Linked DNA regions of Homo sapiens. The protein of the gene in region 3 purifies or fractionates together with the protein of the main gene of each other region. This does not show direct contact. Each region holds a gene or a part of one and is shown on either strand. Other genes may lie near its edges.

Evidence for each region.
Region 1: the proteins of CLUAP1 (region 3) and H2AZ2 purify together in Homo sapiens (affinity purification with mass spectrometry, with the first as the bait; one large-scale study listed by BioGRID). This does not show direct contact.
Region 2: the proteins of CLUAP1 (region 3) and SLX9 purify together in Homo sapiens (affinity purification with mass spectrometry, with the first as the bait; one large-scale study listed by BioGRID). This does not show direct contact.
Region 4: the proteins of CLUAP1 (region 3) and CRACR2A purify together in Homo sapiens (affinity purification with mass spectrometry; 3 studies listed by BioGRID and IntAct, with this or other methods). This does not show direct contact.
Region 5: the proteins of CLUAP1 (region 3) and GOLGA4 purify together in Homo sapiens (affinity purification with mass spectrometry; one large-scale study listed by BioGRID and IntAct). This does not show direct contact.
Region 6: the proteins of CLUAP1 (region 3) and FTO purify together in Homo sapiens (affinity purification with mass spectrometry, with the first as the bait; one large-scale study listed by BioGRID). This does not show direct contact.
Region 7: the proteins of CLUAP1 (region 3) and IFT80 purify together in Homo sapiens (affinity purification with mass spectrometry; 2 studies listed by BioGRID and IntAct, with this or other methods). This does not show direct contact.

The regions. Positions count from the first base shown.
Region 1 is NC_000007.14:44,838,088-44,841,587, reverse strand, and holds part of H2AZ2 (histone H2A.V), read left to right. Parts: intron 1-575; coding exon 576-689; intron 690-3,500. UniProt on the Homo sapiens protein: Variant histone H2A which replaces conventional H2A in a subset of nucleosomes. Nucleosomes wrap and compact DNA into chromatin, limiting DNA accessibility to the cellular machineries which require DNA as a template.
Region 2 is NC_000021.9:44,943,029-44,946,528, forward strand, and holds part of SLX9 (ribosome biogenesis protein SLX9 homolog), read left to right. Parts: intron 1-655; coding exon 656-809; intron 810-3,500. UniProt on the Homo sapiens protein: May be involved in ribosome biogenesis.
Region 3 is NC_000016.10:3,535,504-3,539,003, forward strand, and holds part of CLUAP1 (clusterin-associated protein 1), read left to right. Parts: intron 1-618; coding exon 619-768; 3' UTR 769-3,500. UniProt on the Homo sapiens protein: Required for cilia biogenesis. Appears to function within the multiple intraflagellar transport complex B (IFT-B). Key regulator of hedgehog signaling.
Region 4 is NC_000012.12:3,746,610-3,750,109, reverse strand, and holds part of CRACR2A (EF-hand calcium-binding domain-containing protein 4B), read left to right. Parts: intron 1-3,500.
Region 5 is NC_000003.12:37,295,271-37,298,770, forward strand, and holds part of GOLGA4 (golgin subfamily A member 4), read left to right. Parts: intron 1-816; coding exon 817-949; intron 950-3,500. UniProt on the Homo sapiens protein: Involved in vesicular trafficking at the Golgi apparatus level. May play a role in delivery of transport vesicles containing GPI-linked proteins from the trans-Golgi network through its interaction with MACF1. Involved in endosome-to-Golgi trafficking.
Region 6 is NC_000016.10:53,822,656-53,826,155, reverse strand, and holds part of FTO (alpha-ketoglutarate-dependent dioxygenase FTO), read right to left. Parts: intron 293-3,500; coding exon 1-292.
Region 7 is NC_000003.12:160,256,486-160,259,855, reverse strand, and holds the end of IFT80 (intraflagellar transport protein 80 homolog), read left to right. Parts: intron 1-1,220; coding exon 1,221-1,331; 3' UTR 1,332-2,870; downstream 2,871-3,370.

The DNA.
Region 1 (3,500 bases), on a different chromosome or scaffold from region 3:
CAGTGAGCCAAGATGGCGCCACTGCACTCCAGCCTGGGTGACAGAGTGAGACTCTGTCTCAATAAAAAAAATAATAAAGGGCACAGACAAGTGGGATCAGGATACTTTGAAATGAGAAAAATACCCTCTTTTTCAGAAAGTAGAAAGAACCACAATGAGATAATAGTATTGATTTTTCTTAACTATCAGATCACCTCTTGAAACTGAAGAAAGAACATTTAAGATCTGAGGAAGGTATTGGAGGTTCAAAGTTGCATGTGGCTATTATGTGAAGAAATTAACTAGATAGGAATTTGATCCATGGGTCATGTTGAACGTACAGTTGATGACAGCCCAGCGTGGTATTTCTTCATTTTAGAGTGATATTTCCCATATTATGCAGAGGTTAAAGATTTTGGACAGATTACCAGAACAGAGACACAGGCCCTGGGAACTATTGATGCGTAATAGGTTTGGCTTCTGATATGTGTGATCAAGTTTTTTATTATTTCATGCTTACATTGTTCAGCCTTTGATTACAGTCAGTGCAATGTTAAGACTCTGCAGTGCTTCCCACTAAGACATCTCTCTTTTAGTTTCCTGTGGGCCGCATCCACAGACACTTGAAGACTCGCACCACAAGCCATGGAAGGGTGGGTGCCACTGCTGCCGTGTACAGTGCTGCGATTCTGGAGTACCTCACTGCAGAGGTTTGTACAGGAATGTCTGTTGTATATGGCCATCCAGAAGGTGCACTAGTCTCAGTGACAGAAACCCATGGAATATATTTGAAAAAAGACATATTATGCTCACTGGGGCTTTTTTGTTTGTTTGTTTGGAGACAGAGTTTCACTCTTGTTTCCCAGGCTGGAGTGCAATGGCCAGTCTCGGCTCACTGCAACCTCTGCCTCCCGGATTCAAGCGATTCTCCCACCTCAGCCTCCCAAGTAGCTGGGACTACAGGTGTGCACCACTGTGCCCAGCTAATTTTTGTATTTTTAGTAGAGACAGAGTTTCACCATGTTGGCCACACTGGTCTCAAACTCCTGACCTCAGGTGATCTACCTGCCTCAGCCTCCCAAAGTGCTGAGATTACAGGCTTGAGCCACCACGTCCGGCCTCATTGGTTTCTTTAATAGCAGTTTGAGATGCATCTTGTCAGCTATTACCCAATGCCAATGTAAAAGAACCTTGGTGTACTTGTTTTTAAAGCTAAGCAAGGGGCTGGGCACAGTGATTCACGCCTGTAATGCCAACACTTTGGGCGGCTGAGGTGGGTAGATTGTACACTTGAGTCCTGGAGTTCCAGACTAGGCTGGGTGACAGAGCAAGACCCTATCTCAAAGTAAAAAAATTTTTAAAAGTTAAGCAAGGGCCAGCAATCTCTTATCTTTTATTTTTATTTTTTTATTTTGAGACTGGGTCTCACTCTGTCACCTAGGCTGGAGTATAGTGGCATGATCATAGCTCACTCCAACCTCAAACCTCCTGGGTTCAAAGGATCCTCCTGCCTCAGCCTCCCTAGTAGCTGTGACTTCAGGTGTGTGCCACCACACCTGGCTAATTATTTATTTATTTATTTATTTATTTATTTATTTATTTATTTTGAGACAGGGTCTTGCTCTGTATCCCAGGTGGAGTGCAATGGCACAATCTTGGCTCACTGCAACCTCCACTTCTTGGGTTCAAGCAATTCTCCTGCCTCAGCCTCCCCAGTAACTGGGATTACAGGCACCCGCCACTACACCCGGCTAATTTTTGTATTTTTAGAGGAGACTGGGTTTCACCATGTTGGCCAGGTCAGTCTCAAATTCCTGACCTCAGGTGATCCACTTGCCTCAGCCTCCCAAAGTGCTGGGACTACAGGTGTGAGCCACTGCGCTGGGTGCTAATTTTTTATTTTTATTTTATTTATTTATTTTTTTTTGAGACAGAGGCTCGCTCTGTCACCCAGGCTGGAGTGCAGTGGTGCAGTCTCGGCTCACTGCAACCTCCGCCTCCCGGATTCACGCCATTCTCCCACCTCAGCCTCCCGAGTAGCTGGGACTACAGGCACCCGCCACCACGCCCGGCTAATTTTTTTTTTTTGTATTTTTAGTAGAGACGGGGTTTCACCGTGGTAGCCAGGATGGTCTCGATCTCCTGACCTCGTGAGCCACCCACCTCCACCTCCCAAAGTGCTGGGATTACAGGCGTGAGCCACCGCGCCCAGCCTATTTTTTATTTTTTTGTGGAGACAGGGCTCCCTATGTTACCCAGGCTGGTTTCTAACTCCTAGCCTCAAGTGGTCCTCCCAAGTTGCTGGGATTACAGACATAAACCACCATACCCCAGTGAACTTTGAAGTATGTATGTAATCAGTAGACAGTATTTGTGAAGTTAGAGCATAATGTTGTAGTTTATGAAGATTTGGGATGATGTAAAGTTTGGCCAGTGTGATGATATATAAAAATCACAAATATGATAATAGAAGTAAAAGACTCAGTCTGTCCTGGTTCTCTGCAGGGTTATACATACAAAATTGCTGTATATTACTCAGTTTGAAATTTCAGGAAGACAAGTTAATTGGGCAAGAGTTCTTGGGTCACAGACCACCACTTTCCCCATCCCTATTCCTCCTTTAAAAAAATCCGTTGGGAAGTCATAAAACTTCAGCTACATTCCAGATTGGGGAAGTAATTTGAGTAACAAGTAGGTCAAGTGTAGACGCATTCATTCTGGTGGAAACAGAAGGGTCTTACTTGGGGAGATGTGATTGGGAGCTAGGCTGAGGAATTTAGCTTTTAATCTGTATGTCAGTTATCATTGCTGTCATTTATTTCATTAGTCTCACCAAGTCATCTGTGTCCCACTGGGGATTTAACATCGAATTATGGATGTTATGGATAGTTTCAGCTTCTCTGTGTCATGATCAAGGGGTGTTTTGTTTTTGGGGTTTTTCTTGTGTGTTTGTTTTGAGACAGGATCTCTCTCTGTCTCCCAGGCTGGAAGGCAGGGACATGATCTCTGCTCATTGCAACCTCTGCCTTCTGGGTTCCAGTAATTCTCCCACCTCAGCCTCCGGAGTAGCTGGGGCTACCGGTGTGCATCACCACACCTGGCTAATTTTTGTTATTTTCTTGTAGAGACAAGGTTTTGCCATGTTGGCCAGGCTGATCTCGAACTCCTGACCTCAAATGATCTGTCCGCCCCAGCCTCCCAAAGTGCTGGGATTACAGACATGAGCCACCTTTTATTAAAAGAGGCCACCTGGCCTCTTTTATTTTTAAAAATTTTTAAATTTTAATTAAAATACATTTTAAAACTTTTCTATAAGCATTAAGAAATAAATTTCACGGCTGGGCACGGTGGCTTACGCCTGTAATCCCAGCACTTTGGGAGGCTGAGGTGGGCAGATCACGAGGTCAAGAGATCGAGACCATTCTGGCCAACATAGTGAAACCCTATCTCTACTAAAGATACAAAAATTAGCTGGGCATGGTGGCGTGTGTCTGTGTATAGTCCCAGCTACTCAGGAGGCT
Region 2 (3,500 bases), on a different chromosome or scaffold from region 3:
TCTGACCCCCTTCAGAAACCTCTGTTGAGGTCGATGCTGCCTTCCCTGCCAAGGTCAGTGAGGCTTGCACATGAATGGGCTGGGCAGCACGGGGGTCAGGGACGGGGGGGTTCTGTCTCCTCACGGTTTGGTCGGCAGCTGACTTGGAGGAACTGAAATCTTCATGCAGGGATGAGTGTGGCTCAGAACCAGACCTGGCAGAGAGGCTGCTGAGATGACTAGTTCTGATGGGATGTGGTCAGTCTGAGCTGAAAGAGCTGTCAGGCTGGGAGCTGCCTATCCTTCATCTGCTCAGCTGCAGGTTTCTTCTGTGACACAGGAGAATGTTGTAGAAAGAGTAAGACGAAATGGTTGGGAAGGAAATTTGGTTCTTGAGATACTGGTCCTGACTCCTGAAGAACCAGGAGTGAAGCCCGTCTGGTGATTGAAGGCAGGGAGCAGGTGGGCCTGGGCGCTGCGGGTCTGCCCTGGAGCTCTGGAACCGGAGGCTTCTGCTCTGGGAGGTGAGGGTTGTTTCCCCCAGGTCCTCCCGGGCAGAGAAGCTGGGGAATCCAGGTTCTTGTCTTGCATCTTCTCCTCACCTTTAACGTCCCTCTGAAACCACAGAGCAAGTCTCACACCTCTTCTTTTCGTCCGTTTTTGTTGGGGACATTAGGACTGGGCGTTCATCAACACCAACATCTTTGCCAGGACCAAGATAGACCCCAGCGCCTTGGTGCAGAAGCTGGAGCTGGACGTGAGGAGTGTCACTTCCGTCAGGAGAGGTGAGGCAGGCTCGAGTGCACGGAGCGTCCCTTCCATCAGGAGAGGTGAGGCAGGCTCGACGGGTTACCATGCTGATACCCAGCAGGTCTGGGATTGTTCCCTCAGGCACCCGAGGTCTCAGCAGCTTTCCAGCTAACCTGTACCTGACAATGTCCTTGAGCAAGGGATGCCCCTGGCTGTTTCTTGGGGCGATTCCCCAGAGTAGATTACAGCTGTGGTTTTGCCCCTGGGCTGCATCATGTCTCCGCAGCTCTGCAAGAACTGCTCTGCGTCCTGGCAGCCACGCTGAAGCCACAGGAACTTGGGCTTTGGTGACCAACAGGGTTTGAACTGTTTTCTCCGTGTGTGCTGATTCTTTCGGTCTGTCTGTATGTTTGGGGCAGTTTTGATCCTTTTCTTAAACAAGTGCTTTATGTGTTGCAGAGGTTAGCTGCTTATCATTTTGTACAAATAACTCTTGAGGGTTTAGATCCTGAAGCCGAAGCAGGGTCCTCTCAGTTTCATCAGATCCATGCGCAGCCCTTCCCGTCTCCTGGTTGTGCTCCTTGCAGCCCTGCAGCACACACGTCAGCCTGGCCAGTGAGAGGGTCTGGGAACTCCCACTCACTCCAGTGTCCGGAGCTTAGCAGGGAACGCCGTCCCCCTGCACCTCCTACTGAGTCTGAGGTGTTTTAGAGAGTTCCCGGCCACCATGGTCAATGCTGGGAGTGTTGACTTTCTGGCTGGAGGATGGTGAGCAGTGTCACTTCCCAGGGATAAATCCAGGAAAAAGCTTCCTTCACTCATCTAAGGGAGTCGGTGAGGAGCACAAGGAATACTTTTTACATCTTGACAGCCTTGGGAAGTCATAGGTTGGGGAGGGAGAGGGCCTGGCTGTGGGGGCAGAGCTCAGGGCACCAGTGTGACAGTGAAGACTGCATGTGGCTTCACAGTCGGCAGAGCTGGGAGCGCCAGGACAGGGCAGGAGCCGGGTCTGGGGCCTGTAGATGGCCCGTTAAGATCGTGGGCTCTGGGCCTCTGCCCCTCACCGCCTGGTAGCCTCTGGCTGGACACTTGATCGCTCTGGGCCTGGGCTTTGCATCTGTCAAAGGAGGTAACAGTATTTATCTCCTAAGTTCTGGCAGTTTTGAGTTTGAGATGAGGTAGTTGGTGTGAAACGTTTAAAACAGTGCAGTGAAGGCTGTGGAGGCGCCCGCTCTGCATCTGTTGAACGAGGCTGGTCTGGTGGGAAGGCTGGGGACGAGTGGGTTTTGCAGCTGCCCAGAGGTGGGCCAGCCCTAATTCCTTGGGCACAAGTCATGTGATCACGGGTGCTCTGTGACCCTTAGCTCCATTGTCCACAAAGCGGCGACAGACATAGCTCATAGATGCTAAGGGCCTCACTGTGCCTCTAGAAAGATCCAGGTACATTTAACCAGTGCAGGTTTCCTGCTCCTTCTCTCCAAGGAGGACCTGGTGAGGTGACCAGGCCAGGTAACTCCAGAGAGAAGCTGTGCCTTCCAGCCAGGAACGCTTGATGTGGGTGGTCCGCCCGAGCTGTGTCCCTGGTTGCTGACAAGGCCCTTAAGGCTGTCCCCAAGGGGATGGGAGTCGTGGGTCTCAGTGACCTGGCTCTGGCCTGAGCTTCTCAGAGCTCTTTCACACAGCAGCCTCTTTCCTCTGCCTTTTCTTGGCCCTCTCCCTTCAAGCCCCTGTGGCTCATCTGGTCCCCAAGGTCACCTGCTGCACTGACTGTCACGTCCCCTCTTCCCCTCCTAATTTAGGGAGACGTCACGCTCACGACCCGTCTTGCCTACCAGGGAAACTCCTCTTTAGCAACATCTGGCCTCGCAGCGTTCTTGGGCTGAGGTCGTGCCCAGCAGCCCTGTGGCCTCTCCTTTGAGCCATGCTGGATCTTTGTTTTTGTTTGTTTGTTTTTTGTTTGTTTGTTTGTTTGGAGACAGAGTCTTGCTCTGTCGCCAGGGTGGAGTGCAGTGGCTTGATCTTGGCTCACTGCAACCTCCGCCTCCTGGGTTCAAGTGATTCCCCTGCCTCAGCCTCCTGAGTAGCGGGGACGGGACAACAGGCACATGCCACCACGCCCAGCTAACGCCACCACGCCCGGCTAATTTTTGTATTTTTAGTAGAGATGGGGTTTCACCCCGTTGGCCGGGATGGTCTCGATCTCTTGACCTCAGAGATCTGCCTGTCTTGGCCTCTCAAAGTGCTGGGATTACAGGTGTGAGCCACCACGCCCGGCCTGGTCTTTGTTTTTCGTAAGCTCAAACCTCATTAATTTAGAGTAACTGGTGGGAGAGGGTAGAAGCTTGAACTTTACAATGTCAAAGATTGATTTCAAATTTCAGAACCATGTTATCAGAGTAGAGCATAGAAGTGTTTTCTTGAAATAATTGAACAATAAGTTGAAAAAATTTGAAGATTCTATTGTTTGTGAGTCTGTTGGGTAATTAATTTTTTTCTTAATTCACATACCCTTATTTGTGCATAAAAATCTTAAAGCTTGTGCTGACGGGACTGTAGCGTGGCCCGTTCTGGCGCTCCCCAGCCCTGAGCTCGTGCTGACAGTAGCGTGGCCCGTTCTGGCGCTTCCTGCTTGTGTGCAGGTGTTTCCCATAGCCCGCCTTGAGGGGCACGAGGATGGGAATTATTTGAGCCGTGCGGCAGGGTCAGGGTTTTGGGTGTTGGGGAGGAGCCTTGGCCTGGGGAGGCACTTAGTGCTTCTGGCCAGGAGCCGG
Region 3 (3,500 bases):
TCACCCTGGAGCCCTGGATCCGATGAGGAGAGAGAGGGTGTGTCTTTCACTTTGCTCCCTTTTTTTCTTTTTTTTCTTTTTTTTTTGAGATGGAGTCTTGCTTTGGAGTGCAGTGGTGCAATCTCGGCTCACTGCACCTCTGCCTCCCAGGTTCAAGCGATTCTTCTGCCTCAGTCTCCGGAGTAGCTGGGATTCACTTTGCTCCTTATACCAATGTCTATGTTGCTTTCCATCCACAATCTACAAAAAGCCAAAACAGGCCTCCCTTCCCTCTCTCCAAGCCCCTGTCCTTCTTGCCATCTGTAGGGGGAGTCTCTAGGTCCAGTGGCCCTCAGCGCAGATGCAGAGTGCTTCTTAGACGCTGCGGGAAAGCCAGCCCCTGCAGCACCACACCCAGATGCACCTGCAGTTTGGAGGATTCTGGTTGGATGATAAATTCCAGCTGGCAGTACATAGCCTCAGTCCCATCTGTATGCCCTCCCACAGCCTGCTTGCCACTCTGCCAGCCTCTTCCTTCACACAGGGATGCTGCTATAGAAAGGGAGGCAGAGAGTCTTAGGACAAGATGTCAGGAATGAGGCAGGATCCCCCGTTGCATCTGCCATTTTTTTCCTATAGGAGGACTCGGAGGAGAGTGAAATTGACATGGAAGATGATGATGACGAGGATGACGATTTGGAAGACGAGAGCATTTCTCTCTCACCAACCAAGCCCAATCGAAGGGTCCGGAAATCTGAACCCCTGGATGAGAGTGACAATGACTTCTGACCCTTTTGCCAAGGGACCCTGGCAGATTAAAACCCTCAGACTTGTAGGTAAATGGGAACTTAGAAGGTTAGGAAGGTAACCCCTGTTTTGTTTACTAAGCTGGCTGGACTCATGATCACTGAAGCAATACTTATTTCTGCTTTAGCCTCCTATGTTTGCATTCCATGAAGCTTAAATAAGAATTGAAGCAAATCCCTAAGATTTATTTTTTTCCACCTTATTTATCTTCTAAAACTTGAGGAATGCATGTGTTCTTAGTGATTCACATCCACGGGACAAAAACTCAAGAAGAAATAAGAGCTGACGCCACACAAGTCTTGGCTGCTTTTGTTACTATACATTTTCTCTGAGACTCCAGCAGAGTTGGGGCTGGAACTTGGCACTGGGGACTCATGTTTGGAATCGTAGGGGAACATCTGGCTGTTAATCACTTGCACAGTTGAGAACATTTCCTATACATCGGCTTTTAATTCTAGCTCTTATTTCATTTTGTAATCTTATTTTCTTTCGTCTGCATGTTCACAATACCAAGCATTAAATGTATTTTAATAACTAAACTTTTCTGAAAGAAGGTTAGCTAAAGTTAAATGAAAACTTGGTTTCTTTGAAAATCAGGCAATAGAGACAGGCTCCAGATGAGGAATCCTCCATTTTCTGTCCGAAGCTGACATTCCTCTGGCAGTCCAGTTCACCTTGGATTACAGCCACCTTCATGTTTCCACGGTTGGTACTAAATCTGGAAACTCTGGTGACCTGGGCTGCCCTCTCAGAAACTCCAGACTCCCATGGCAATGACAGCCGGGACACTTTTCTTCCCTCCAGCCAGGGTTTCTCTAAAGGAGCTTTGTTTTGTCTAAAGTGTGGCAAGACATAGTGCACAACACAGGGACAAAGGCAGGTTTCCTGCAGCTCGCTACCTAAGTGTTTCTGTAGGGGAAGGAGCCAATTAAGAAAAAGTGTTGGTACAGATTCATGTTTCTGATTTAAAAAAACAACAACACAGGATTGAATTAAGTAGAGTAATAGCACTAGAAGAATTTTTCTGTTGTGAAATTAGAAGTGGAGTTGGTTTTTTTCTTTTTTCTTCTTCTTTTTTTTTAATATGAAAAGTACTTAGCTGGGAGTGGTGGCAAGCGCCCTTGGGTCCAGCTACTCAGGAGGCCAAGGTGGGAGGATCACTTGAGCCCAGGAGTTTTAGACTAGCCTGGACAACTAAGTGAGACTCCATCTCTACAAAAAATTAAAAAATTAGCCAGGTGTGGAGGGGCATGCCTGTGGTCTCAGCTATTCAGGAGGCTGAGGCAGGAGAATCACTTGAGACCAGGAAGTTGAGGCTGCAATGAGCCGTGATCATGCCACTGCACTCCAGCCTGGGTGACAGAGTGAGACCCTGTCTTTAAAAAAAAGAAAAAGAAAAGCACGCTGCTTGTAAAAAGCGTACAGTAGGTCAGGCGTGGTGGCTCATGCCTGTAATCCTAGCACTTTGAGAGGCTGAGGTGGGTAGATCACCTGAGGTCAGGGGTTTGAGACCAGCCTGGCCAACATGGCGAAACCCCACCTCTACTAAAAATACAAAAATTAGCCGGGCGTGGTAGCGCATGCCTGTAACCCCAGCTACTGGGGAGGCTGAGGCAGGAGAATCGCTTGAACCTAGGAGGCGGAGGTTGCAGTGAGCCGAGATGGCGCCACTGCACTCCAGCCTGGGCAGCAGAGTGAGACTCCATCTCAAAAAAAAAAAAAAAAAAAAAAGCATACAGTAAATAAAAAAGCACAAAACAGTTTTCACTTATTTTACAATTAAAAAGTCAGAAGACTTCTGAAGTTACTTATCTTTTAATACATGTATTTAACACCATACTTCATATTATTAAATAGGTTTTACTTAAAAATATAATTATTGTATTTGTACCTGTCAGATATAAATACTTATTCAGGAGTTCACAGGTACGAAAAGATACACATAAATTTTAGGAACTTTTGAGTTATTTCTGTCATTTTTGCTTTTTTCTCTTTCTTTTCCTAAATTTTATGTATAAGATTACCCCTAAAAAAAAAAAAACAGCCAGTATTCAGTGAATTCACCAGTAATTTGAAATGCACCATATTGTAAATGATCCACTGACAGGGAAGCCAGCGTGTTGGAGCCATGCCAGCCACCTCAGACACCGTGGCTCTAAGATGCGGAAGAGTCACTGCATCTTCTTGAATGTTACAGATTTGGTTTGCCTGAATGTGACTTGACTTCTGTTTTGAAAAAACATACGAATAGAGTTCTATTTTCCTTATGTGATGCTTTCTTCTAACACACTTTAACACAGAAGCCTAACCTAGCTACAAAGAGCCTATCCACAGACATAGGCAACAGCTCCAAAGGGTATTTCATTGTGTCACCTGCTTCTAGATCATCTGTTAGTTAACTGACTTTGTGCAAGGTCTCACCATGTATAGCACTGCCTTGCTTGAGCACGGAAGTTTCTGTCAACAGCAAGCTTTATGTGCTCTATCATTTTTATTAAAGTATTTCAGTCAATAGTGACCCATTGTAGAATGGATGCAGGATTCACATGTGCAAGTGCTTTGTGACCTGGCACCATTTGGTTTTGGCCAAGCAGCAGAGCAGACCTCAGGACCTAACGAGGATGGTTGTGATTAGGTCAAATAGAAAACTAGCAGGCCATTGCTGACAATTTTTACTATATAATTAGAGGACTTCCTAAAATGCTTTAAAAAAA
Region 4 (3,500 bases), on a different chromosome or scaffold from region 3:
ACAGAAATTAGCTGGGCTTGGTGGCAGGCACCTGTAATCCCAGCTATTCAGGAGGCCAAGCAGGAGAATTGGTTGAACCCGGGAGGCGGTGTTTGCAGTGAGCTGAGATTGCGCCATTGCACTCCAGCCTGAGTGACAAGAGCGATACTCCGTCTCAAAAAATAAAAATAAAAAATAAAAAAAATAGCCCTGGGGACAGTTCTATAGACAGGTCTAGCATTCAATGGACCATTTCAAACTGGTACACTTTTTGTTCCTACCAACACAACACACACACACACACACACACACACACACACACACACACACACACAAAGAAACAGCAACAACAACAACAACAAAAACCAGCACATTGTTCCACTCATCCATCTATTGGTCATTTCTTTGCCTTTTCAAATCGCTTCCTTTCCTCTGAGAGAAATTTGATAAGGCACAGTTTAGTTAGAGCCATAAAGGGTTCCGTCCAAGTACAGGGTCAGGGGGAAGTCCCAATAAAGCCAGACGGTACCTGTGTGCACCAGCAGAATCCTAAGGCACGGACAGGGAAGCAGGAAAGGAGAGGATGGCTGTAAGGATCAAGGAAGGAGAAGAGACAAAGTGCAGAGAAGAAGGAAAAGAGGAAGAGCTGAGTTTGTGGAGCAGACAGCTCAGTGGCATGGGCAGAACCTACTTTGGGGACCTATATTTTGGGAACCTGGCTCCCCAGTACTCAGAGGCAGCATGAAGCAGGGAGATAACCAGGTGGACATGAAGAAGCCAAAGGGAGTCACTCTTATAATACATCATCCAACCTCGGGCACTGCCGGGAGTGAAAGGGGGAATATTCATAGCAATGCTGGGACCACAAGCATAGCCAGGATGTTCCAGGCAAACTGGTCACCTTCACAAGAGCAATGCAAAGAAAGTGCCAGGCATGGCCCAAGGGCTGTCCATGTATTCCCTTATGGAAGCCTCACTACAACCCAATTGGCTAGGCACTGCCATCATGCCCATTTTATAGAAAAGTTAACTGAGGAAGAGAGAGGCACAGTATCATGTCTATGGTCACACAGCCGATACACGGTAGAGGCAGGATTTGAACTCAGGCAGCTTGGCTATTTCAGAGCCTGCACTGTAAGCGTTATGCTCCATTGGCTCTCTACTCACCAACAGCATCCACACAAAGACACCCCCTTCCCCTCACAGGACTCAGGAGAGGGACCTTTGGGGTCTGTTTTCCCTCACAGCTGCTCCAACTGGTCAAGTTAGCATGACGTCATCCGGATGACATAAACAAATTTGCAGTCAGGCTGAGGTGAGGGGGAGGACAACCCTCAGTCAGGTTTGTCCTCTACAGGCTCCACACCTTGTACACAGTGCTGAGTCTTGGCCTCAGGTGTTGGAGTTCTCAGTCATCCTTGCCTTGTAACTGCTCTGCCCTTTCTCTGAAGGCTGAGTTAGATACAGGAAGGACCTCTTGAAGTTCAATATTAGGGACGGGTTCCTCTAGGACCTCATCTGCCTGGGGCAACTAGAGGGTGCCACCCTGTGATGACAAAGTTATCTCCAGGGCCTCTTCCAGCTTGAGGGCTATAGAATTTTCTTTTGTGACAGATTCTTCAGGAGACAGAGCATCCCCCTTGTCGGTGTGTTTTGGCTCCCAGCCCTGGCTTTCTCGGAATGCCAGCGGGACACTTTCTTCCCTTGTCTGTTTGTTGACACATCCTGGATGGGGCTGGCCAAGGGAGGCATTTATGGGGCAGCAGGCTCTATGGTGGGTGGAGTCTGACTCTGGGTGATGCTCCAGGTGTTTCTAGAAGATGCATGGAGGTAGGAGCAGGCAAGCTTCCCCTGTGGTTCAGATTCCAAGGGCCTCTGTCCCCACCCCATCTGTGCTGAAGATCCCTTATTCACACAATAGAGCTGCCCTGCCTGGGGGTGGAAAAATGTGAGGCTGGGCCTGAGAACTTGTGGGAAAGTGGAAACCGTGTTTTACCCAAGCAAGTCCCAGCAGTGAGGTTGGATAGGCTTAACACCCAGTCCTGTGCTCGTAGTGTACCCCTGAGCCTGTGGAACTCTGTGCCCTTCTGGGTGCACCCCTGAGCCTGTGGAACTCTGTGCCCTTCTGGGTGTACCCCTGAGCCTGTGGAACTCTGTGCCCTTCTGGGTGCACCCCTGAGCCTGTGGAGCTCTGTGCCCTTCTGGGTGTACCCCTGAGCCTGTGGAACTCTGTGCCCTTCTGGGTGCACCCCTGAGCCTGTGGAGCTCTGTGCCCTTCTGGGCTTAGTTAGAGGAAAGGTGAGAAGGGTGAGACGTAGCACACGTGCTACAGGTGCACCAGGACAAGCTGGAACCAGCGGGTGTGGCTGCCCTCCTCCCGGAACCTGCACTCGTGTTTCTGGCCAGACAGCTTCCTTTACTCTCTTTTAAACTCACAGCAGCACCAGGGGACGTGGGAGGTTGGCTACCATGACCCAATTACCAGTGCAGACAAGAGGAAAATCTTCTATTACCTGGGTGATTGGTTTATTTTCACTTTGTTTACTTTAGAGATTGCTCAGCATTGAGGTCCAGGATTTGTAGTCCATCAGAGTTCTCTTGGTAAATGGATGCAGCTTTGCCACATTGTCCGCTGCACATAACCACATACCTTCACCCACTGGGATAGAGGGTTGGATTGGTGCTGATGCGGGAGGGAGGCCAGCTTCCTGCAGCCCCACCTTGACCAAAGACGGAACTCCAGGGACTCTCTTTCCACTGCACCTCAAGGTTGATGCACAGAAACACACTGGGCATGGCTGAGAGTTTGGCATAAATGAACTCATCTTTGTAACCGTTTTATGAAATAGGCACTGTTATGATCATCCTCCCCATTTTACAGATGAGGAAGCCATCTTCCTCATCTGTTTCAAGAGGCTGAGTAACTTTTCCAGGGTCACACAGCTGATAAGAGGCCGAGCTGGGATTTGAACCCAGGCAGTCTGGCTCTAGGGCCAAGTCCTCAAGCGTTCCACAGCCTGCCGCCTCTGAATGCTTAGTGCAGAGTCTGGGTTCTACTCTAACCAGTCATATGTCTTTGGGATTAGCCTCTAAACCTGAGTTTCTCTTCTCTTCATTCAAGTGAGAATACAGGAGTTACCTGTTGATCCATGTCAGGTGAGTTAAGGGATGTGAGGAAGCACGTGGTCCACGCACATGTGATCCCATGGGTCATGGTGACATTACCTGTTTTGAGAGCTTGTGGTTGAGTTCCATGCTAAGGGTGTACTCCTCCCCTTGTTGGTCCTTCTCAACCAACTTGTTGAGATGTACTCCTCCCCTTGTTGGTCCTTCACAACTTGTTGTGCTTGTCTTGGATTGAAATTCTCCAGGAGGCAGAAGCAGAGTCTCTCACCTAATTAGCTTCCATGCATGCTAAGTCCCTGCTGTGCCAGCAAAGGGTCCTGCAGGGGGTCTGGTCTAAGAAGAGAGGGGTGGTCCCTGTAGTAGGCATGCATACTCCCTTTGAGGGGATGTCTTTG
Region 5 (3,500 bases), on a different chromosome or scaffold from region 3:
GCAGTGGCGTGATCATAGCTTAACTGCAATCTCAAATTCCTGGGCTCTAGCAATCCTCCAGCCTCTGCCTCCAGAGTGGCTGGGAATACAGGCATATGCCACCACGCCCAGCTAATTTTTAAATTTTTTGTAGAGATGGGGTCTCACTATGTCGCCCAGGCTGGTCTCAAACCCCTGGGCTCAAGCGATCCTTCCGCCTTGGCCTCCCAAAGTGTTGGGATTATAGGCATGAGCCACCACTCCTAGCTCTTCAGTTAATGTTAAGGATACTTTTTTATTTATTGTATCTTTTGACTAACTGCATAATAATAATAGCAAATATAAAAACCAGCTGTATTGGGAGTAAACTTTTTATTTTGATTATTTTCCCCCACTTTAGTAAGAAGAATATCATTTAATCCGTCCTCTCTCTGTTTTAAATAAAGTACAATAAGCCATCCACATTGATGTGTTTTTGTATGTGTGGATTCAACCAACTGGATCAGAAATATTTAGGGGGTGAAAACCATGTGTAGTGAACATGTAGACTTTTTTTCTTCTCATTATTTTCTAAAATATATGTAGTACAACAACTACTTGCATAGCATTTTCATTATTTAGGTAGTTTATGTAATCTAGGGATGATTTAAATTATACTGGAGGATGTGTGTAGGCTATATGCAAATACTACACCATTTTATATAATGGACTTGAGCTCCTGCGGATTTTGGTATTAACAGGGAATCCTGGAACCAATCCCCCACAGATACCAAGGGACAATTGTACTACTCCCATAGTTTTTTTTGACTTTTTTCTAATGAAGCACATTTATATTAGGTTTCTCTACTGAAACAACGATTACGAAATGGCCCGATGAATGTTGATGTACTGAAACCACTTCCTCAGCTGGAACCACAGGCTGAAGTCTTCACTAAAGAAGAGAATCCAGAAAGTGATGGAGAGCCAGTAGGTAAGCTTCATTTTGTCAAAAGGTTAATTTAAAAACTAGAGGAGAGCCAGGCTCCTTGGCTTACACCTTTAATCCCAACACTTTGGGAGGCCAGTGTGGGAGGATCGCTTGAGTTCAGGAGTTTGAGACCAGCCTGGGCAACATAGAGAAAACCCTTCTCCACAAGAAAAACAAAAACAAAAATGAAACCCCAAGAAAACCTAGAGGAGGATTTTGAGAGATTCCAGGATGTGAGCTGATAGATATGGGCTGAGGTAGAAGTGTCCGTGGTCCTAATAGTTTCAGAAAGATGCAAGGGTTTGTTTTGTTTTTTTGGTTCTTTGTTGTTATTTAGGAGAAAATAAGTGTTTTTTGTTTGCTTGTTAGTTTGAGATGGTGTCTCACTCTATTGCCTAGGCTGGAGTGCAGTAGCATGATCTCGGCTCACTGCAACCTCCATCTCCTGGGTTCAAGCGATTCTCCTGCCTCAGCCTCCCGAGTAGCTGGGATTACAGGCACACACCACCATGCCCGGCTAATTTTTGTATTTTCAGTAGAGACGGGCTTTCACTATGTTGGCCAGGCTGGTCTCGAACTCCTAATCTCAAGTAATCTACCTGCCTCAGCCTCCCAAAGTATTGGGATTACAGGTGTGAGTCACTGTGCCCAACCAAAAAAGTTGTTTTAATATGCAAAAATTTCATAGTCTGTAACACCACATTTTCATTGTAATTGAAATTCATTTATTATGCTACACTGTTTTATTAATAGCAGTAGCTAGATTTCATATGAACAGGTCAGTTCTGCTTACATGCTAATAAGTGGGCTATTTGTAATTGTTTGGATATTTTAGTTTTTAAATATTGCTTAAATAGTTCTATATTCATAGATATTTGTATTTGTCCTATTAATTGCTTTTTAACTGGAAAAAGAAGAAATAGCTATATTTTGTCTTAAAATTCAGTTACAGCCTTCTTTGCTTTGAGGCTTGAGGTATATACGCAATAAAATTCCCGTCTTTTATTTCCTAGCTTTTTCTTTCAAAGGGACTTATGATAAACTTGGAGTAAGTAGTTGAGCAGTTAACTATCTGAGCAACCAGACTATGGTGGGGTGGTGGGGCGGCGGGGCCAGTCCCGAAATTCCCAGACATGTGGAAACTTCAGACTCATAAATGTAAAGAGATGGAGAAAGTTGCACTTACCAGAACTCCTCTCAGAAAGAGATTAGAATGTGGTTGGAAAGAATACCGTACTTTATTAATCCTTTTGGGAGGTGAGCTAAGACACATAATTTTGAATAACAAAAGATGATTATCAAACTGTCATTTTAAGGAGGGTGGATTCAGTTAATGTTAGTTAACTACTGTGCCATTCTGAATGGGGTTGAACCTCAAAGAGGTGAATTACTACTAAGCTTCTTCAGATAAAGATTAAACAACTAATACTAAGTAGAGGTTTGGAAGGGTGCCAGTTTATTAGCTGACTAGGGTTGTCCCTTCTTCATCTAAGAGTATAGCAGAATATTGGTGTAAGAATACACTCCTGGTGGGGCGTGGTGGCTCTCACCTGTAATCCCAACACTTTGGGAGGCTGAAGCAGGCGGATTGCCTGAGGTCAGGAGTTCGAGACTAGTCTGGCCAACATGGTGAAACCCCACCTCTACTAAAAATACAAACAAGTTAGCGAGACGTGGTGGTGTGCGCCTGTAATCCCAGCTACTTGGGAGGTTGAGGCAGGGGAATTGCTTGAACCAGGGAGGTGGAGGTTGCAGTGAGCCGAGATCATGCCACTGCACTCCAGTCTGGGCGGCAAAGCGAGGCTCCGTCTCAAAAAAAAAAAGAGGGAATACACACCTGTGTAGTAACAGACTGTTCCTGGAAGTGTCCTTATATTTGTAACCGCCCAAAGGGTTCACCTTGCCCACTGCCTAGACAGAGCTGATTTATCAAGATAGGGGAATTGCAGTAGAGAAAGAGTAATTCACGCAGAGCCGAGTGTGCACGTGACCAGAGTTTTATTTTACTCAAATCAGTCTCGCCAAGCATTCACGGATCCGAGTTTTTAAGAACAATTTAGTGGGTGGGAGGAAGCCAGTGAGCCAGGAGTGCTGATTGGTCAGGTCAGAGATGATATCATAGGGAATCAAAGCTGTCTTCTTGTGCTGAGTCACTTCCTGGGTGGGAGCCACAAGATCAGATGAGCCAATTTATCGATCTGGGTGTTGCCAGCTGATCCATCAAGTGCAGGGTCTGCAAAATATCTCAAGCAGTGATATTAGGAGCAGTTTAGTGGTGGTCAGAATCTTGTAGCCTTCAGCTGCATGACTCCTAAATGATAATTTCTAATCTTTTGGCTAATTTGTTAGTCCTACAAAGGCAATCTAGTCTCCAGGCAAGAAGGGGGTTTGTTTGGGAAATGGCTTTTATTGTCTTTGTTTTAGACTATAAACTATAAACTAAGTTCTCCCAAAGTTAGTTCAGCCTACACCCAGGAACGAACAATGACAGCTTAAAGGTTAGAACCAAGATGGAGTCGGTTAGATTAGATCTCTTTGACTGTCTCAGTCATAA
Region 6 (3,500 bases), about 50 Mb from region 3:
AGGTCTCACAAGCAGCGGCTATTTCAGCCTCGGTGTGTTTTATATTAGACCCTTTCACTGGCCAGGGGACCGTAAAGAGCCTGGTGTTCAGGTACTTGTAGGTGCAGCCTGGATTACCAATGAGGATGCGAGATACCGGAGTGAGCAGATCTTTGCCTTGGATCCTAACCAGGTCCCGAAATAAGCAGCCATGCTTGTGCAGTGTGAGAAAGGCTTCTTGAACCTCTTTATGGAGCTCCTCAGATACACTGCTGGCTTCTCGGAGAATTAGTTTAGGATATTTCAGCTGCCACTAAAACAAAACCAAAGCAAAAACAGACGTTGATATATAGCTACAATTGTATTATTTCCAAAGGTGTGTTTCTTTGTAAGCATTTGGGGAGTTGTGGGGGGACTACCTGGTGGCTATTTCTAAATAGGAGTCACATCTTCCTAGCCCAAAACAGAAAACCAAATAAAACAAATGTCATCAAACTCTAAAGTCAAGATTTTCAAGTTCAAGCTCAAATTACTAACAATCTTTAATAAAAAACAAAAAATAATAATGTGTGTCCTGATACACCAGGATTATTCTGTGACCACTTTTTCTCACCCTAAATCTCAACACCATTTTATTAACTGCTTATTATCTAAAATATTTATTAAGTGCTTACTACGTACCAGGTACTGTTGTAAGTTACTTGTGTGCATTAGCTCATTTTAACTCTAGGCATAGTATTATTATCTCCAGTTTATAGATGAGACCACTGAAACACAGAGACATTAATCTGACCAAAGACATTAATTTGCCCAAAGTCACACAGCTGGCAAATACTGGAGCTGGAATTTAAAGCCCCTGGACACCAACCCCTGGCTTCCAGGGCACGAGTTCTTAACCATGAGAATGCATTGTCTCAATAAATGACAAACTGGTTTCTGCTTAACACTTTCACAAAAAGAGAACTCACTTCTCTTCAGGAGTTAGACATTAAGTTCCATGAACACAAAAGCCATGGCAATTTTGCTCATGACTATAATATGAGTGCCCAGAATTTACTCAGTAAATGGTAAAGGAATGAATAAATGGATTTGTGCATGGATGAATGAGGTATTATTACATTGTAATTCTACAAAATTCTAATAATTCTACTGGTGTCACTGGAGGAGAGTAATATTGGTCAATTCCCTTCCCTAATACAGAAATACATGGAATGATTAATGTAGGTTAGGGCTGCATTAGCTTTTCGGCTACCACTTTCCTTAGGACTTGGCATGTGAATCGGTGTCAGACTGGAGTTTCCTGATTCTGTAAAATGCAACTGATTTATTTGTAACCAAATCACAGGATTTTACATTTACCTCTGTAACGTTTGATCTGATTTGTTCCTCCCTAGTTTTAGGCTGTCTTAAAGAAAGAGTCAGACATGATCAACACATTAACCTGTCCTCCCTGTATTGTGTTGCCCACCATTGTTAAGATACCTTCCTTCTCTGTCTTCATTTAGTAATTACCATTCACATGATAGGCAGGGCAAGACCAGTATTCTTCCAAACGTTTTTTTTTTCATGCAGCATCTGTTTATTGAGCACCTACCACCAGATGGAAACAAGGTCCCTGTTCTCACAAAGCTTTCTACCAAATCAAGTAAATAAATAAAGAAAAGCAACCCCAAATTGTGTTAAGTACTAAGACAGAAACAAACCAGCAGGAAATCTTATTAGAACAGGAAGAATTCTCTAAGGAGACGGGATTTAAGCTGAGATCTTCAGGAAAAGAAGGCACCAGAAATATGACAAGCCAGAGAAAGTGCTTCCCAGAAAGACAGACCAGAGAAGCCAAAGGCACTCAGGAAAAAGACCAACCTATTCTAGGGACAAAAAAAGGCTTGTTTTACTAGAGCACAAGAGCCAAAGACAGAGTGGCATGCTACGAGGAGGCAGAGGAAGGCGGAGGCCAGATCACACATAGCCCTAGAGGTCGTGGTAAGGAATCTGAAGCTAACTCTAGATGCACTGGAGGATGTAGAAGGGAGAAAAATAACTTGATTTACATCTTATACAATCGCTCTTAGTTATAATATCAGGCACAGATTGGAAAGAGGCACATGTGAGCGTGGAATGTGCTATTACAATCATCTGGAAGAAAAGTGATGGTCTGGACTAAAATAGAGACAAAGATAAGTGGACAGATGAAATACATACGTTGTAGGTAGAACTAAAGGATGTGCTTATGAATTAGATGTAAGGGATAAAAAAAGATATAAGTCTTTTGGGGTTTTTTGGGTTTTTTTGAGATGGCGTTTCGCTCTTGTTGCCCAGGCTAGAGTGCAATGGCATGATCTTGGCTCACTGCAACCTCCACTCCTGGGTTCAAGTGATTCTCCTGCCTCAGCCGCCCGAGTAGCTGAGATTACAGGCATGCGCCACCACACCTGGCTAATTTTGTATTTTTAGTAGAGACGGGGTTTCTCCCTGTTGCTCAGGATAGAAGTTAAGAATACATTCCAGATTTCTGGATTTAACAACTAAATAAACAATTTACTATTCTGTGAAATAAGGAAAACTGAGGCAAAAGAGAAATAGTAGAAAGAAGAAAAGGGGGAAATGAAGAGTTCACTGTAGAGCTGCAGCCTTGAAGATACCTATGAAACCTCCAGGTGAAAATATGGTGGGCGGGGGGAGGGGAATTGGATGTACACATCTGGAGCTCAGAAGAGAAAGCAGGGCAGAGGAACGCAATGTGGGAGTGATCAGCACACAGCTTGGTTTTAAAGGCCTAGAAATGAATGAGATCACCTAGGGAAACAGTACAAATATCAAAAGGAGACCAAAGCTATTTCCTGAGTCGCAGCAGAAGCCTCAACAAAGGAGAACCAGCAGAGTGTATTATTGCAGAAGCTAAAAGAGGAGAGCATTTCTAGAAGGGCGGGGTACTCAACTATGTCACCTGACACTGAGAGGCCAAGTGAGATGAAGACAGATGATCCAGTAGATTTGGCAGCATGAAAATCACTGATGGCAATGACACGAGCAATCTCAGTAGAGTGCTGGGGGTGAAAGTCAGATTGGAGTAGGCGAAGATGGAATGAAAGAGGAGGAAGTGAGATGGCATGTAGAGATGTCTCTGAATGGTTCTGCTATGAAGGGGAGTAGAAAAATGGAGCTTTTGATAAAGAAGAAGGCTAGACTAAGGGACAATCTCTAATGATGGAAGACGCTAGAGAACACCAGAGTTTCTCAGTACACTCATGAGAATGATACAAGAGAAAGAGGCTGACGATGCAGAGAGAGTGAATAACCAAAGAAGTCGAGACCTTGAGTGTCTAGAGCAGTAGCCCCCAAGTCAGGTATGCAAGGCTTTGTAAGGCCATCTGGAAGAGTGGTGGGGCACAGGGGAGAGGTAGAACTGCTTTATTTTTAATATAAAATGAAAGAACTCAAGCATTATTAAAATATGTATGCATATATATATATACACACACACATATACACACAAATAGGTTTAATATGAATATTATTAT
Region 7 (3,370 bases), on a different chromosome or scaffold from region 3:
TCAGAGTTAGTTTAATCTATGACCCAATTTTTTCCATGTCTTGCCTCAGAAAGGATAAACATTCCTAAATTAGTGATCTCCAAACTTTGTTAACTGGTAGAATGTGCTTTCCTAAAGAAGTTGCTCATAGAACTCAGGGGCAGAGTCTATTCCTAACAAGTCTAATGAACTTAAGAGAGGAATAGGGCTGGGCTAGGGGAGGGGAGACTGCATAACGGATAGAAGGGAAGCAAACAAATAAAAATGTTTGCACTTTGCAGTTATTCTTTTCATGTGTTTCCCAGTCTTGCTTTCCCTTCGCTTTCTCTAACATCTTTTCCTCATTGTCTTAATGACCACCATGTCTTACTTTAAGAGTTGGTGCAAAGGAGCCACTTTCACAGAATATGCTTAGGGGAAGCTAATGAATCCCTGTCTTTCCTCATAACTAGGCTTCCAGTGGAAACTGCAGTATATAAGATGTGAAGCCTATTTGAAAAATGGCTTGGTAACCAGAGTCCGGTCCACTTTTTCCTCGTTTGGAAGACAGCGGTCCATCTCATCCCCTACCTTGTCCCTGAGCACGTGTACACAATCCTAAGGCTCCATGGGACTGTTTAGATGTACCTTTATAAATAGCTGTGACTAGATTTTGGTCTTTTAAATCACAATGAGAGTCTTTGCTTTTTATTATATAATTCTTATTTTTTGGTCTTATTCTTAAAACTACTTTGTGGTTTTTGAGCATTATTTGTTTTTGTTTTTTTTGAGACAGGGCCCTTGCTCTGTCACCCAGGCTGGAGTGCAATGGTGCAATCACGGCTCACTGCAGCCTTGACCTTGAGGGCTTAGTTGATTCTCCCACCTTAGCCTCCCTAATAGCTGGGACTACAGGTGTGTGCCACCACACCCAGCTACTTTTTTTATTTTTTGTATTTATTTTCCCATCTCGGAACTTTGCCATGTTGCCCAGGATGTTGTCAAACTCCTAGACTCAAGCAATCCACCCACCTCAGCCTTCCATACTATTGGGATTACAGGAGTAAGCCACTATGCCTGGCCAAGCATTATTTCTTCTTCTTAACTTTGATGCTCTCTTTTTCTCTAATCTTTTGATGCTCTCTTTTTCTCTAATCTTTTGGAAGTCACACAGTCTATCTGTTTACTCTTAGTTACTTTGGAGTAAACAAAAATGTCTTACACTATCTAAGCATATTTCTTCTTTTTTTTTTCTATTGCAGCTCCAAATAGATTGGGAGAAAATCAAAGCCAAAATTGAGATGGAAATTACAAAAGAAAGAGAGCAATCATCAAGCAGCCAATCCAGCAAGAGTATAGGTTTAAAGCCCTAAATGCCATGCGTATCTTTAAGAAATTTTATCTTTTGAAACACGTTCTGATTAACCAAGGGTAAGCATGTTTTGGTTGCTAAAGAAAAAAGCATAATCTTTAACCGAGTATAAGTACTTGCTGTGTATTTAGTGTAAAAGTACATGCAGAAAGATGAAACACAAAGTAATTGATGTATTTCTATCTTTTATATTTTTTAGTCCAATAATTAGCAAAATATTACTATGTACTTAAGAGATACCTGTGTAGTGTCGATTATATGTCAGTTTTTTGCCCATTACTTCATCCCTAAATCTTCAGCATGAACAAATATTAATGTCGATAATAAAACATTGGACTCTTTGAAATGTATGTTACCATTAATTTCTATTTGACCTCTAAATTGTAAAATGCCTCCAAAAGTTTATTTATAGAACAAAAATACATGAGGATGGATTTGTACAAATGTATAAAATGCCACTATTTATACACCAAGTTCATAGCAGCATTACTGGAATAGCAAAAGATGGAAACAGCTCAAGTGTCTATCATGAATGGATAAACAAATGTGCTATAATACATACAATGGAATATTATTTAGCTTTAAAAAGGAATGAAATTCTGATAAATACTACCTCAGGATAAACCTTGAAAACACTATGCTAAGTGAAATAAGCCAGACACAAAAGGCCAAATATGATGCCACTTTTATGAGGTACCAGCATAGGCAAGTTCACAGAAACAGAAAGGAGAATAGTGGTTGCCAGGGACTGCAGGGAGGAGGAAATGGGGGGTGGGGTTATTGTTTAACGAGTACATAGTTTCTGTTTGGGATGAACAAATTCTGGAAATGGATAGCGATGATGGTTGCTCAACATTTTGAATGTTAATGCCACTAAATTGTACCCATAAAAATGGTTAAAATGGTAAATTTTGTTATGTATATTTTATCATAATTTAAAAAATATATCTAGAATGGGCAAGAAGGATTCTCCTCATTCCTCTCTTGACTTGAGAATGATCAGTCAATAGGCCCTGAAGTCTGAATTTGTGAAAATTTCCTTGGGTGACAAACTTGTTTGATTACTCTATTTAGTGTATCCCAAAGTTATTACCACATAATCTTTTAAACAATAAAACAAATACCCCTTAGAAAGTCTTCTGCAAACCCATTTCTGAAAATGGTACATTATAGGGTGGGTATAGATGCATAGATATGGGATTATGTATGATATATATATATATACACACACACACAAAGGGATAGAGAGATTACCTCTCTTAACCCCCATTTTAATTACTATGTCTAGGTTTTTTAAATAAAAATCTTTTCTTTTTAACATGTTTCTTTTCTTTTCCGGAATATTGGAATATTCTGTTCTTGATCCAGATGAAATCTGATTGAGCAGTGTACTTACAAGTTGTACTGTGTATGTGTTTCCTATATTGTTATATTTCAATAAGAAGCTTAAAATGTTTAAAAATAAATGGTTAAAAGGTTTTATGTTATGTATATTTTACCACAATAAATGCAAAAAATAAAAAGTCTGTGTTCTAAACAATTCTCTCATATCCTAGAATTCAATCCAATTCTAACACTAACTACCTAGAATTAGAAACAGATCCCACAAGTTAAAGGGCAAGGTTCCCAAAAAGACTGCCTTTATTTATTTATTTGTTTATTTATTTTTTGAGACAGGGTCTGGCTCTGTCACCCAGGCTGGAGTGCAGTGGCCCCATCACAGCTCACTGCAACCTCCGTCTCCCGGGTTCAAGCAATTCTAGTGCCTCAGCCTCCTAAGTAGCTGGGATTACAAGTGCCCACCACCACACCCAGCTAATTTTTGTATTTTTAGTAGAGACAAGGTTTCACCATGTTGGCCAGGCTGGTCTCAAACTCCTGAATTCCTGACCTCTAGTGATCCGTGCTCCTCGGTCTCCCGAGGTGCTGGGATTACAGGCATGAGCCACCGCACCTGCCCTAAGACTGCCCTTATTTTAGACTCCAGCCACAATCAGAGTCCCCAGGCTACTCACACTTGTGTCTGACTTGGCTGCACAT